Regions from separate parts of the Homo sapiens genome. Here region 1 is linked to region 2. A link means that fine-mapping ties the variant in region 2 to the expression of a gene that starts in the linked region. Tissue or cell type: whole blood. Region 2 holds a variant in brackets; the other region holds the start of a gene. All regions are shown on one strand. Distances are from middle to middle.

Region 1 (5,896 bases), 120 kb after region 2:
GGCGGATCATGAGGTCAGGAGATCGAGACTATCCTGACTAACATGGTGAAACCCCGACTCTACTAAAAATACAAAAAATTAGCCGGGTGTGGTCGTGGGTGCCTGTAGTCCCAGCTACTCGGGAGGCTGAGGCAGGAGAATGGCATGGACCCAGGAGGCGGAGCTTGCAGTGAGCCGAGATCACGCCACTGCACTCCAGCCTGGGCGACAGAACGAGACTCCATCTCAAAATAAATAAATAAGTAAATAAATAAATGAAAAGTATATAGGGAGGAAGACAATAAGAGCCTCTAATGGGTGCTTTCTGGAGAGCGGATGCAGGGGGTTATGGATAGAGCCAGCTGCTTCTCCCCTGGTCCCCCTCCAAGCACTTTGCCTGTTATCTTGAGCGGTTACTGTTGCTGCTGTTGACTATCTGTGCAGTCATCTACAAGGGGGCTGTGAACTCTCCAAGGACAGGGACACTGTCCTGTTCACCCCTGGGGCCCCAGCACATAGCACCTTGCCTGGCATAAGGGTGAGGCACTGTCAGGATGGCCTCGTTCACAAAGGATGGTGGGGCAGCCTTGGCCCAGCCTGAGCTCCCAGCCTCCCCAGCTTCCCCGTTGATAAGGAGACTGAGAGAATACAGACACCCAGAGGGCAAAGGTTATCCACTCCAAATACCACTTAAGGTGGGAATTCTTCCTCTGCTGTCCTCATCAACCCTTCCCTGGATTCTGCTTGCATGCTGCTAGTGACAGGGCACTCATTCATGACAACTAAGGCAGCCTCTTCCATGTTGGAAAACTTGGAGTGATTGTGACAAAGGCCTCCCACTGATGTATGATCAGGCTGGCTGGGATTACAAGCACAGACCCTGCTGCTAGTCTTTAGGGTTACACCAAGCAGAGCACTGGCAGGTGTCCCCAAGTCTGGGAGGACATTGCACATGAATGACGCTGGGGGCCCTCCCTTCAGCAATCCAGAGCCCTGAGTGCCAGAAAGGCAGAAGAGGGAGTGACAAATGAATTCATCAACCCAGCTTGGCCCAGCTCTGTAAAGGCAGTGAGGTGAGACTGAGTTGTTGCAGAAATTACTATAGAGCCTTGAGTCAGATGGCTCCACCCAACACACCTTAAAAATAATCCTCATCTAGAGTCACATACTTTGATTGATTGATTGATTCATTCATTATTGGCTATCACTGTCTAGGTGTTTGGCTGGGGGCAGTGTCAGTGGCACTGGGGCATCAGAGTTTATCTACCTTAGTAATCAGGACAGTTTATATTCACTGAGCACTTACTATGAACCAAGGACTGTTCTGTTTACTTCCTTGCCAAGGGCACAGACTCTCCTGCCCAATCCCAGCTCTGGTGAGGACAGTGGGAGCCTGCATGGCACAGAGTCCATGCACAGTAAACATGAGCAGCTCCTATTAACTCTAAATCTCTACAGCAACCATAGCCGGTTCTTACTATTGGTTGCTCTAGGTGACTTACTTTGTCCAAGGCCACACAGGCACTAAAAGGCAGAGTCAGGATTTGAACCTAGGTGATCTGGTTCCAGAGCCTGCTCTATTAACCGTTAAGGAACTGGTGCAGACAGAACCGAGACCTGGAGTCAGAATGCCCACCTAGCTAGATGCCTGAGGCAGCCACTCACCTCTTTCTGTCTTATTTACTTGTGAAATGGAGCATGTCATCAGCCTTGCCTTCCTTTTCCCGCAGCCCCCCACCCCGGTTCCTGGCCCACTGTGACCATCAGATCAGATGAAAGAGATCCAGGCATTTCTCTAAGGAGAGCACAGGGTGGTGGGGGTTGGGGTGGGAGAGAGCACATTATTTTCCCACCATAAGGGGTTGAAGGAGCCCAGAATTTGGGGGTGGGGCCTTGTCTGTAGGAGCCTGGTTCTCTCAGGTTGACACGCCACCAGAGAGCCTCCATGACCCCCAACCCTCATCCTCACCCCAGCCCCCCATAGGATGTGTAGAGACAAAAGGTTTGACAACTGTAGCGCCAACAAGCGTCCTAGAGCCCCAGATAAGATCCTAGCCTCCTGACAGCGCAACTGACAGCAGCATCTCTGAGGCTGGATTTTAGGGTGGAGTATGAAGAAGGTGGCCGTAGTGACAGTGGGGTCATGTTATTTGGCCAAGTCACACCAAGCAGGGAGAGAGAAGGGTGGGCCTAGGCTGGAAGCCTGAAGGCTGAGTGAACTCAAACTTTAACGACCATGGCCTGTAAAATGGGACTAAGCACAGCGCCCTTATGGGTTGCTGTGAAAATCAAATGAGTTAATACTTGTAACTCCTTTAGCATATGGTGTCTGGCATCAGAGAGTGCGCAGCAAACGGTGACTATTGTCGTGACTGTGTTATTACACACTTGGGTATCACCGCCAGCCAAAGCAGTCCCTTCCATTTCAGGCACCGGCCTGGGCCCGGGAGACACCGCAAGGCTATTTAAGATGGTGTGGTTTGCCCATCTACGTTGATCGTCCCAAGAAAGGGGCACCGTCTGCAGAACTTGCCAGGAAAGTCATCCTGGGCGGCGCGGGCCACGCCAGGGTCTCCCCGCGCGGCTTCCTCCCCCGGCGCCTTCTCTCGGGCGCGCGTGCGCCCCCTGCAGGCGGCCCCCGGGAGAGCCTCGCGGGGGAGCCGGGAGCCTGGTTTCCCCGCCAACCCCCATCCCGCCCGCCCCGGCGGCCACCCTGGGGGCGAGGCAGCCCGGCGCGTGGGAGGGGACGGCGCGCCATTGGCTTGTGCGCGGAACCGAGAGGAGGGACCAGCGCGGGCCGCCAGACTCGGTAAGCCCCGGCCGCGCAGGGCGCCGCGCGCAGTCCAGCCGGCCCGGCCCTGCCCTGCCCTGCCCTGTCCTGCCCTGCCCTGCCCTGCCCTGCCCTGCACTGCCCGGCCCGGCACGGGCGGCGCGATGTGAGGCGTCCGAGCCCGGAGCCTCCGCCTGGCATCAGCTCCACGTAGCCCAGCGCCGGCACGCGCGAGGCCCGTAAGTTCTGCTCCCCGCCGCCGCTTCCGAGCCGCGGACTTTCCCCTCCCGCCGCCCGCCGCCTGCGCAGCGCAACCCAGCGGGGCTCCTGCGGCCGACGGGACCGCAGAGGGGCGGCCGGGACCCCGCGCGCGCTAACCGGGCGCCCCGGGACATCTCGGCACCCGCTGAGCCCGCTGGGACCCCAGGGGGTCGCCTCCCCAGCTCCCCAAGGCGCCGTCCCGCAGCCCCTTCCGTCTCCCCTGCGCGCTCTCCCCTCGCCGCCCCTCCCTCTGACTCGGTTTCCCCTCTCCCCCGGCTCCGCGGTCGCCCTCCTCCTGGACTGCTTATTTCGTCCTCGGCCACTGCCTCTCGGGCTCGAGCTTTCTGCTTCAGAGCAGGAGAGAAACGGAGCGAAAGCAGTTTCTGTCTCCCCGGGGTCTGACTCGGTCCCCCGCGCTCGGTTCTCTGTCCCCTCCCCCTCCCGCCATTGTTCCCGGCAGGAGGAGTGCGCGGCGCAAACTTGCGAGTTCCCCCAGTCTTTGCCCCCGCAGGGCCGCGGACGGAGGTGGTGGCGGAGTTCCCGCTGCCCACAAGTCTGGCCCGACCTTCTGGGGTGGGGGCCTGGGGGCAGGGGCCCTGGGCCGGAGAACCCGGGGCCGCCTAACGGCTCGGAGCTCACCGCCGGGGGACACCGGCGCTGAGGCCTGGGTCTCAGAAAGTGGGTGAGTGTCTGGAGCGGGGACATCAGGGACAGATTGCAGGGGGAGGGGCGAGGCTGAGAGAGTCCCCCGTCCCCAGGCTGGAAAGGGGCGGGCAGAAACCCAGGCCGCGCCTTAGCCCAGTTAGGGGGTGGGTAGGGGACGCACAGGTGGAGACGCCCCCCACTCTCCCCAAAGTCGCGCGATCTGCAGGAAGGGTACAGTGTGGGGCCACTGGCCGGGCGCTGGGTGGGTTAGGGCCCCTGCCGTGGGCAGAACACTCGCACCTACCCGGGGGAGGCTGTGTGGAGGAAGGGCCAGAACGCCGCGCCCACCCCGGCGCGCCCCGCTGGGCGGGGCGGGGCGGGGCGCTCGCCTTGGGTCCCCTCGCTCTACCTTCCTTCGCCCTGACCCAGTCTCGGGCTTCCGCCTCTTCCTGGAGCCCGGGGGGAGTGGGTTTCTCCGCCGGAGAGATGGAGGCTGGGGCAAGAGCAGCGCGGAGGCCAAGAACCCCCAGGCTCCTCCAAAGCCCAGAGCGGCTGGCCAAGGCCCCCTCACCGCCCCACTACCCTGCACTTCCTGATTGGTTTCTTTCAAACAAACTTCTTGACGGGGCGGGCCTGCGGGGAGAAGTCACCGGGGCTGCCCACCCCAACTATGTGGTCCCTTGGACCTCCACCCCTGACGGCCTGTGGAGAGGGGACCAGGATCTGCGGCCCGCAGATCCCAGGGACGCGGGGGTCGTTTTGTTGCAGAGCCAGGAGGGGGCACTGTCCGCTCCTTAGCCTCAGCCCCAGACTTCGAGAAAGGAGAGAAAAGATTTTTCTTGTTGGGTTGTTAGGAAATAAGACTATTCTCCAGGCTTCTGTTGTCCCATCTGTAAAATGGGTCGTCTTGTTCCTGAGGCCCCCTCTGTCCCCACCATCCCAGGAGGCCCCTGCCATGGCCGCTTCTTTCCCAGTCACATGTCGTCAACTTCCTCCGTGCTTCCAAATTTGGAGTGGAGGGCTAAGGCCGAAAGCCCCTTCACCCATGTCCAGCTGTCATGACCTGCCAGTTCTAGGACTGCGACCTATTTTCTGCACAGCTCTGCCTCCAGGCCCCTTGTGGCTTCTCCAGCTCACACCCAGCCTCCCAATTTCTTTTGATAGCCCCACCTCTGTGGGAAGAAGGGCCTGCCCCTCTTGGGGTATGGGGGAGGAGGGGGCTGGATTTAACAGGAATGCCCCATAGTCACACAGTTTGGGGCTGTTCTTTACTTTTGCTTATTGAACAAAATGTTTGTGAGCATTACACCAAAAATGGCTTATGGAGCAAAGTGCCAGGGACAGTTTCAGGCACTGGGGAGACAGCTGTGGACAAAATAAAAATTTTTGTCCTCATGGAGCTGATGCTTAAAAGCAGGGGGCAGGGGGAGGCAATTCCCTAATAAAAACAATAAGCAAATTATATAGTGTACTGAGAGGTGAAGGGGAAAAGTTGTGTTGGGGGTATTGAGGCCAGGGACCGGGTTGTCATTTTAAATAGGGTGTCAGGGAGGTCTCCCTGAGGAGGTAACTTTTGAGCTACAGCCTTGAGGGAGATGAGGGAGTGAGCTGTGTAGACAGCTAGAGCACAGCCCATGCAAAGGCCCTGAGGCTGGAATGTGCCTACCCTGCAGCTAGCAGGGAGTGAGGGGCTGAGGAAGAGTGAGTGACTGAGAAGGGATGAATTCCTCCCCTTTCACAGGTGAGGGAAGTGAGGCTCAGAGACAGTATGTCAGTCACCCCAGGACACACAGGCCAGGAGAGGCAGCTGCAGGGCGGGGTGCCTGATGTTCTGACTCCTGGTCCACGATACCTCCCCGGCACCCTGTGTCTCACTGTTTATCCTGCTACACTGGCTGGACCCCTCCCAGGGCCAGCGCAGCATCGTCCTCCTGCCCCAAAGTGACCCTTGCTCTCTCTCATCCCACTTCCTTCCTATGACCAGTCCCTTCTGAGCACCCAACTCTGACCTGGCACATGATCCCTAGAAGGGGACCTGCTCTGAGGCAGATTTGGTCAAGGGGGCAACTGAGGCAAGGAAGTAGAGTCTTCTAGTCTAAAAATAATGAGCAGCATTATTATTGAACATTAACTACAAAACAGGCGCTGTTCTGGATTTTTTTGGTGCATCTTCTCACTGGTGAGAGGTTGGTGTCATTATTACACCCCATTTAACAGATGAGGAAACTGAGGCCCAGGGAG
Region 2 (5,896 bases):
ATCGGGATGGGTAGCACTGCCCACATAGGGCTCCTGTAAGGAACAGTAAGACAAAGTGTGCAAAATGCTTCCGGGACCACCACATATGGTTGTTCAAGCTCGGCACTGCACAACTCCAGGTTGCTGAGCAGTACACAATACCTGCAGCTGTGCTTCATCATTACCACCTGCTCTGTTTGCCTTTGGGAAAGTTACTCTGAGCTTCTGTCTCCTTTTCTGTAAAATGAGAGAGGTGACTTCTGCCTTGCAGAGCTGTCAGCAAGACTCAAAGAAATGCTACATGTCAGGGTACCTGGCAAGCCCAACTCTTGTTAAGAGGGAAAAAAATGGTGGCTTTAAAAACCACACTGTCCAGAAGGTCCATGGCAGGGTGGGGGCCATCCAGGAGCTGGATTTTCCAGGCACAGCACTGGACCTCCAACACCCACCAGCCTCGTAGATCAAAGCTGCCAGCCCCAGGCTCTACTGTTCCACTTGACTCTTCTCACCTCCGCCCTCACCCGGGACCACCATGGATTTCTTTTGGAAATGGCCAGTTTCAGGCAAGCAGCAGGACACTGCTATCTTGCCTGCAGCAAATTGCCTCCTGCACAGCAAGACAAGCTTCCTCCAAGGAAAGATGTAATCAGCGCTGAGTTTAGTGCCTACATTGTGAGAAAAAAGCTGGATTTGCTCCTTTGGGGCTGAGAGCTGGGTAAAGCAGAGCATCCAGGGATGGGTACAGGCTGTGGATTGAGGCTTCTCTGTGGCCTTGGAATTGCTGCCCAAAGGACCAAGCTGAAAACAGGGGATGCTGGATGGTCTCCCACTGAGAAGAGAGGGCCACAGACTTACTAAGAGCAGGTGAAACAGCCCCCACCCACATCACACACACAAATACAGACACCATCAAGCTCATGTGAACCAAAGCCTTGGGAAGCAGGAGGAATTCTTCTGAGGAACGTCATCAGCCCAGGGGTCGGGGGTGTGATATGGCTGTTCCATCCCCTTCCACGGGTGGTCCTTCCACTGAGCTAAATATGGTGGCTCCACTAGGGCATTGCAGAGGATGAGGAAGAGCTGACTTTCCTATCCTCCACGCATTCTCTTCCAGGGGCAGGTCCCCAGCCAAGCCTGAGCTGGGCTATTCTTTAAGTAGACACTGAAGTTCTAACCTGCGTGGCTCTGGGCTGGGCCCTATAGCTGTGCAAGGTGCCTGGGAAGGTGTCGGACCTGCCTGGATTACATTAAAGGTCTTGAGAGGAGAGTAGACAGAGCAGATCTGGGGCAGTGATGAGAGAAAAAGAAAATGGGTCATGACTGCATTTACTTGGTTCAGACTGTTTGATAGAACAAACAAGATAGAGGACTCTTCTTTTGGTCTGTCTTCTTTCTGGTTTTTTTTGTTTTGTTTGTTTGTTTTTTTTTTTTTTTAGACGGAGTCTCGCTCTGTTGCCCAGGCTGGAGTGCAGCGGTGTGATCTCAGCTCGCTGCAGCCTCTGCCTCCCAGGTTCAAGCGATTCTCCTGCCTCAGCCTCCCAAGCAGCTGAAACTACAGGCACACACCACCGTGCTCAGCTAATTTTTGTATTTTTAGTAGAGACAGGGTTTCACCATATTGGCCAGGCTGGTCTCAAACTTCTGACCTTGTGTTCCACCCGCCTCGGCCTCCCAAAGTGCTGGGACTACAGGAGTGAGCCACTGAGCCTAGCTGATCTGTCTTCTTTCAAAGAGGCCGTGTTTGAAAGTATTTGAGTGTGTGTGTGTGTGTGTGTGTGTGTGAGAAAGAGAGAGAGAGAGAAAGAGAGAGAGAGATACAAACTGAGAAAGAGAGAGAGAGAGAGAGAGAAAGAGAGAGAGAGAGAGATACAAACCGAGACAGGGAGCTTGAATCCTAATTCTTTGAGGTTAACCAAGGAAGGTCAGGGAACAGGCCATGGATGAAGCTGGTTGAGCAAACAAGATTCACTGTGATGGGCTGAGGCAAAATCTGAATGATGGAAGGTGAAGAAAGGAAGAGGCAGGCCAGCTGTGTGTTTCAGAGCCTAGATTAGATTTGGGGTTATGCTCAGCCACCTGTAGTCCATGTGGCCTCTGCAAGGCACTCAGCCTCATGGGTTATCTGGGAAGCCTTTGTAAATTACAATTTACTTTCTAAAACAGTCACTGTGAGAATTCAGTAATATAATATGAGTACTTGCCTGAGTGCCCCAACAAGAAAATGCAAAAGAAACAAAAATAAAGGAGTGATACTTTGCCTTATAAAAATATATTTAAGAAAAGTCACTCCCACAGTTACAGTCCTTTACTATACATATGTTCCTTCACCTGTGATGGGGTCGTGTCCTGATAAATCCATCGTAAGTTGAAAATATTGTTAAGTTGAAAATGCACTTAATACAACTAACCTATTGAGCATCATGGCTTAGCCTAGCCTGCCTTAAACATGCTCAGAACACATGCATCGACCTACAGTTGGGTAAAATCATCTAACACAAAGCCTATTTTATAATAAAGTATTGAACATCTCATGTCATTTATCACTGTTCTTTTGAACTTGTTATAGCTTTTGCACCATTGTAGAGTTAAAAAATCCTAAGTCAAATCATCCAAGGGGACTCCAGGACTGCCTGTATATACCTCCTGTGCATTTGATGTCAGGCTGGTCCAACTTTGACTTACAAGCTCCTTTCCAGGAGCTTGTAGAAATGTGAACAGGGACTGAGCACTTGCTGGGTGCCAAGTTCTGTTCTCAGTGTTTTGCTTCTATTGACTCAGTGACCATGGCTCAGCATGAGGCCTACGTGGGTGGGGAGGGTCACTCTTCAACCCCACTATAGCTTCATCTGGACTTCTGAAGGGAGACCAGGAGACTTTGGATCCTGGGAAATGCTTGTTGGTGAGCGTGCTGTGTGCCAGGTGGCCTGACTACATAAGTGGGGATGAGTAAGTTCATGCATGTGGGCCCCGATACAGAAGGCCACCATCATGAGCAGTGAGCACAGATGTCCAAGGTGCTGTGGTATGCTTGCCAGAGCACCACACTACTACCTTGCTGTGTGACATTGGGCTCTTTGCTTATTATGACAAAAGGAACCCCCACTGATATCCTGCCTCCTGGTGTCCACACCTTTGTGATCTCTCCTCCCCTTGAGAATGCATGGGAACTTCAGCTTGCTACTAAGGAACAGAATATGGCAAAGGTATATAAGACTCTATCACATACTAGAGAGAGAGAAAGAGAAGAGAAAATGACTCTTGTTGGCTTGGAAGAAGTGAGTAAGCTGCCA[T/C]GTGGTGAGGGGGCTTATGGAAAGGGCCACTTGGCAAAGAATGTTTCTGGCTTCTGGGACCTGAAAGTGGCCTGCAGCTGGCAGCCAGCAAGGATATGGTGATCACAGTCCTAGAGCTACAAATAGATGAATTCTGTTACCAAACTGAATGAGCTTGAAGCAGATCTCTCCCCAGTTGAGCCTCTGATGAGACTGCAGCCGTGGCTAACTAACACCTGGAGTACAGTCTGGTGAGCCCCTAAAGCAGACCCCACTAAGCCACATGCAGGCTTTTGACTTACAGAAACTGTGAGAGAATAAATGTGTGTGTAGTGTTAAGTCTCAAAATTCATGGTATTTTATTATGCAGCAATAGAAAACCTCTCTGTGTAAGTTTCACTTTTGGCAAGACAGAATTAAAAAACAAAAAACAGAAAACTGCTTTCTTTCTTTCCCCCAGACTCCTACCCACCAGTCTCACAGGGATGCAGTGAGGTGAACTGGATAACTATCTATAAACTATTCTAATATCCTGGAGAAAATTGCTAATGAAGTATAGTGATTATATCATCAAAGTAATTTTTAAATTCATCCAAAAAGCCAATCTAATGAGTTGGATGAATAGAAGTTTTTGGGAAAGTTTGCAAATATAAAATCTAAAGCACTTGATAAATGCTGGAAATTAGGAAGACTTCCATTAGAGATGCTCAGTTCTCATGATGGGTAATTATCGAGGCAGAACAGGCAAAGCAGCTCCTTCCTGGGTCCTAACAATAGACACAGAGAAATGAGGTTAATAATCCCTAAGGAGGAAGATAACTGAAGTTGGCATCTCAAAGAGTAATTGTCATCTCCAAGGACAGAGAAGTCTCATTATTAATGTTTAATCCTTCAACCAAAAGTTCAGATGGTGTGCCTTTTGAAGGTGGCACAGCATGAGACAGCCATTCTTATTGCTAGTGGGGGAAGTGGTGACTCCCACATCATTAGGTCTGGCTTTCTTCCCCTCACTTTCTTCAACTCAAAGCTTTGGGTATAAGCAAAATTTGGATGTAAATGGTAGAGTGCTGTGGTTAAGATCTTCAACTCTGGAATCAGGTCTGACAGACCCTAGTTCAAATCTTATCTGTATCTGTATCACTGTGTTGGTTAGCTCTTGCTGCATAACAAACAACGCCAAACTTAATTATGTAAAGCATTTATTTAGCTCACAAGTTTGCAGATTGGCTGGGTAGTTTGGCAGTTCTGGGCTCAGCTTGGCTGATCTTTGCTGGGCTGATTCACAAATCTGCAATCAGTGGGTCGGCTGGGGTATGGCTGGTCTGAGGTGGCTTCAGCGGGGAGAATTGGGCTGACTTGGGTCTCTTCCTCATGGTTTTTCATCCTTCAGCAAGCTGGTTTAGTCTTATTCACATGACAGCTGGCAGAGTTCAAAAGAAAGAGAAGCTTAGAATGGGTGCAACTCACTCCTACTGCATTCTGTTGATCCAAGAAAATTATAAAGCCAGCCCAGATTCAAGGAGTGGGGGAATCAACTCTACCTCTTGGTGGGAGAAACTTGGAAATCACATGCAAAGGGGGTGGTTACAGGAAGGATATTAATTAGGGTTATCAATGCTTCATCCCAAGGCAGCAGTACTCCAACAGCAGCAAGAAATAGCAAGATCCAATACACAAGCACTTTTCAAGCACCCTCTTGTTTACTAATGCCCATTGGCTAAAGCAAGTTGCATGGCCATCCCAGAATCAAAGGGTGCAGAAATAGACTCTACTTCTTGATGGGAGGGAAAGACTGCGTGGCCATTTTTGCAGTCCTCCATACTACCCATCCAAGTGTTATCTGGGAAAATCTTAACTATTGTCAAACAAATCAATGAATCCTGGATAAGACACAAATACAACAAAATCTTGATAACTGTTTAATCTGGAAGGACAGCAATCAGCAGGTTGGTGACCACACAGAGTCCAGCACTACCACAGTCATCTCTGTACCTCTTGTTTTCAACCCAGTCTTCTCTTCTCTAGTTCTGGGACTGGCCACCTTTATCAACTTTAGGGCTGCACAACTAAAGCCCCTGCCCTTGGATTCACACTTTTAGAGCATCTCTGTGAAATAGAAATAAAACATGGGTCACTTATGTAGTTTTAGATTTTCTAGCGGCCCTTTAAAAAAATTAAAAAGAGACAGGTGAAATTAATGCTAAAAATATTTTAAATGTAATATATTCAAATATTATCTCAACAAGTAATCAATGTAAAAATTATTACTGAGCCATATTTTTCACATACTAAGTCTTCAAAATCCAGTATGTATCTTATACTTACAGCCCATTTCTATTGGACAGCCTTGTCTGAAGTACTCAATGGCCTCCTGTGGCAACTGGCTACCATATTGGACAGCACAGCTTTAATTGGTCCTTCTCTGGTCCCCTCCAGCTGCATCTCTCTTGTGGAGTAAGGAATTCATGGAGCAAAAAGGATGTCACCATTTGTAGCTCCCACTACCTTTTTCTAGGCCAGACTCTAGGGGCCTAATGAATCCCAGGTGTTCTGAATACTCTGAACATCAGCTCCATGCCAGCTTCCAGGGATTTCCTGGGCTTCTTCCCCAAGTCCAGCCTCCAGACATCTGTCCTGGTGCTCAATCC

Evidence for each region. PIP is the estimated chance that this variant, and not a neighbour inherited with it, causes the effect.
Region 1: TP53I11 starts here. The variant in region 2 is fine-mapped to the expression of TP53I11 in whole blood (TOPMed, PIP 0.93).

Annotation. Positions count from the first base shown.
Region 1 is chr11:44,947,769-44,953,664 of GRCh38, reverse strand. It overlaps TP53I11 (tumor protein p53 inducible protein 11), which reads left to right and starts at 2,782. Exons shown (of 7, transcript NM_006034.5): 1 at 2,782-2,988. RefSeq lists silencers at 2,593-2,852, 2,883-3,012.
Region 2 is chr11:45,064,291-45,070,186 of GRCh38, reverse strand. No RefSeq gene overlaps it. Among named protein-coding and RNA genes, the nearest start is that of PRDM11, 79 kb to the left of the region's middle. The variant T/C (reference allele first, on the strand shown) is at 3,270.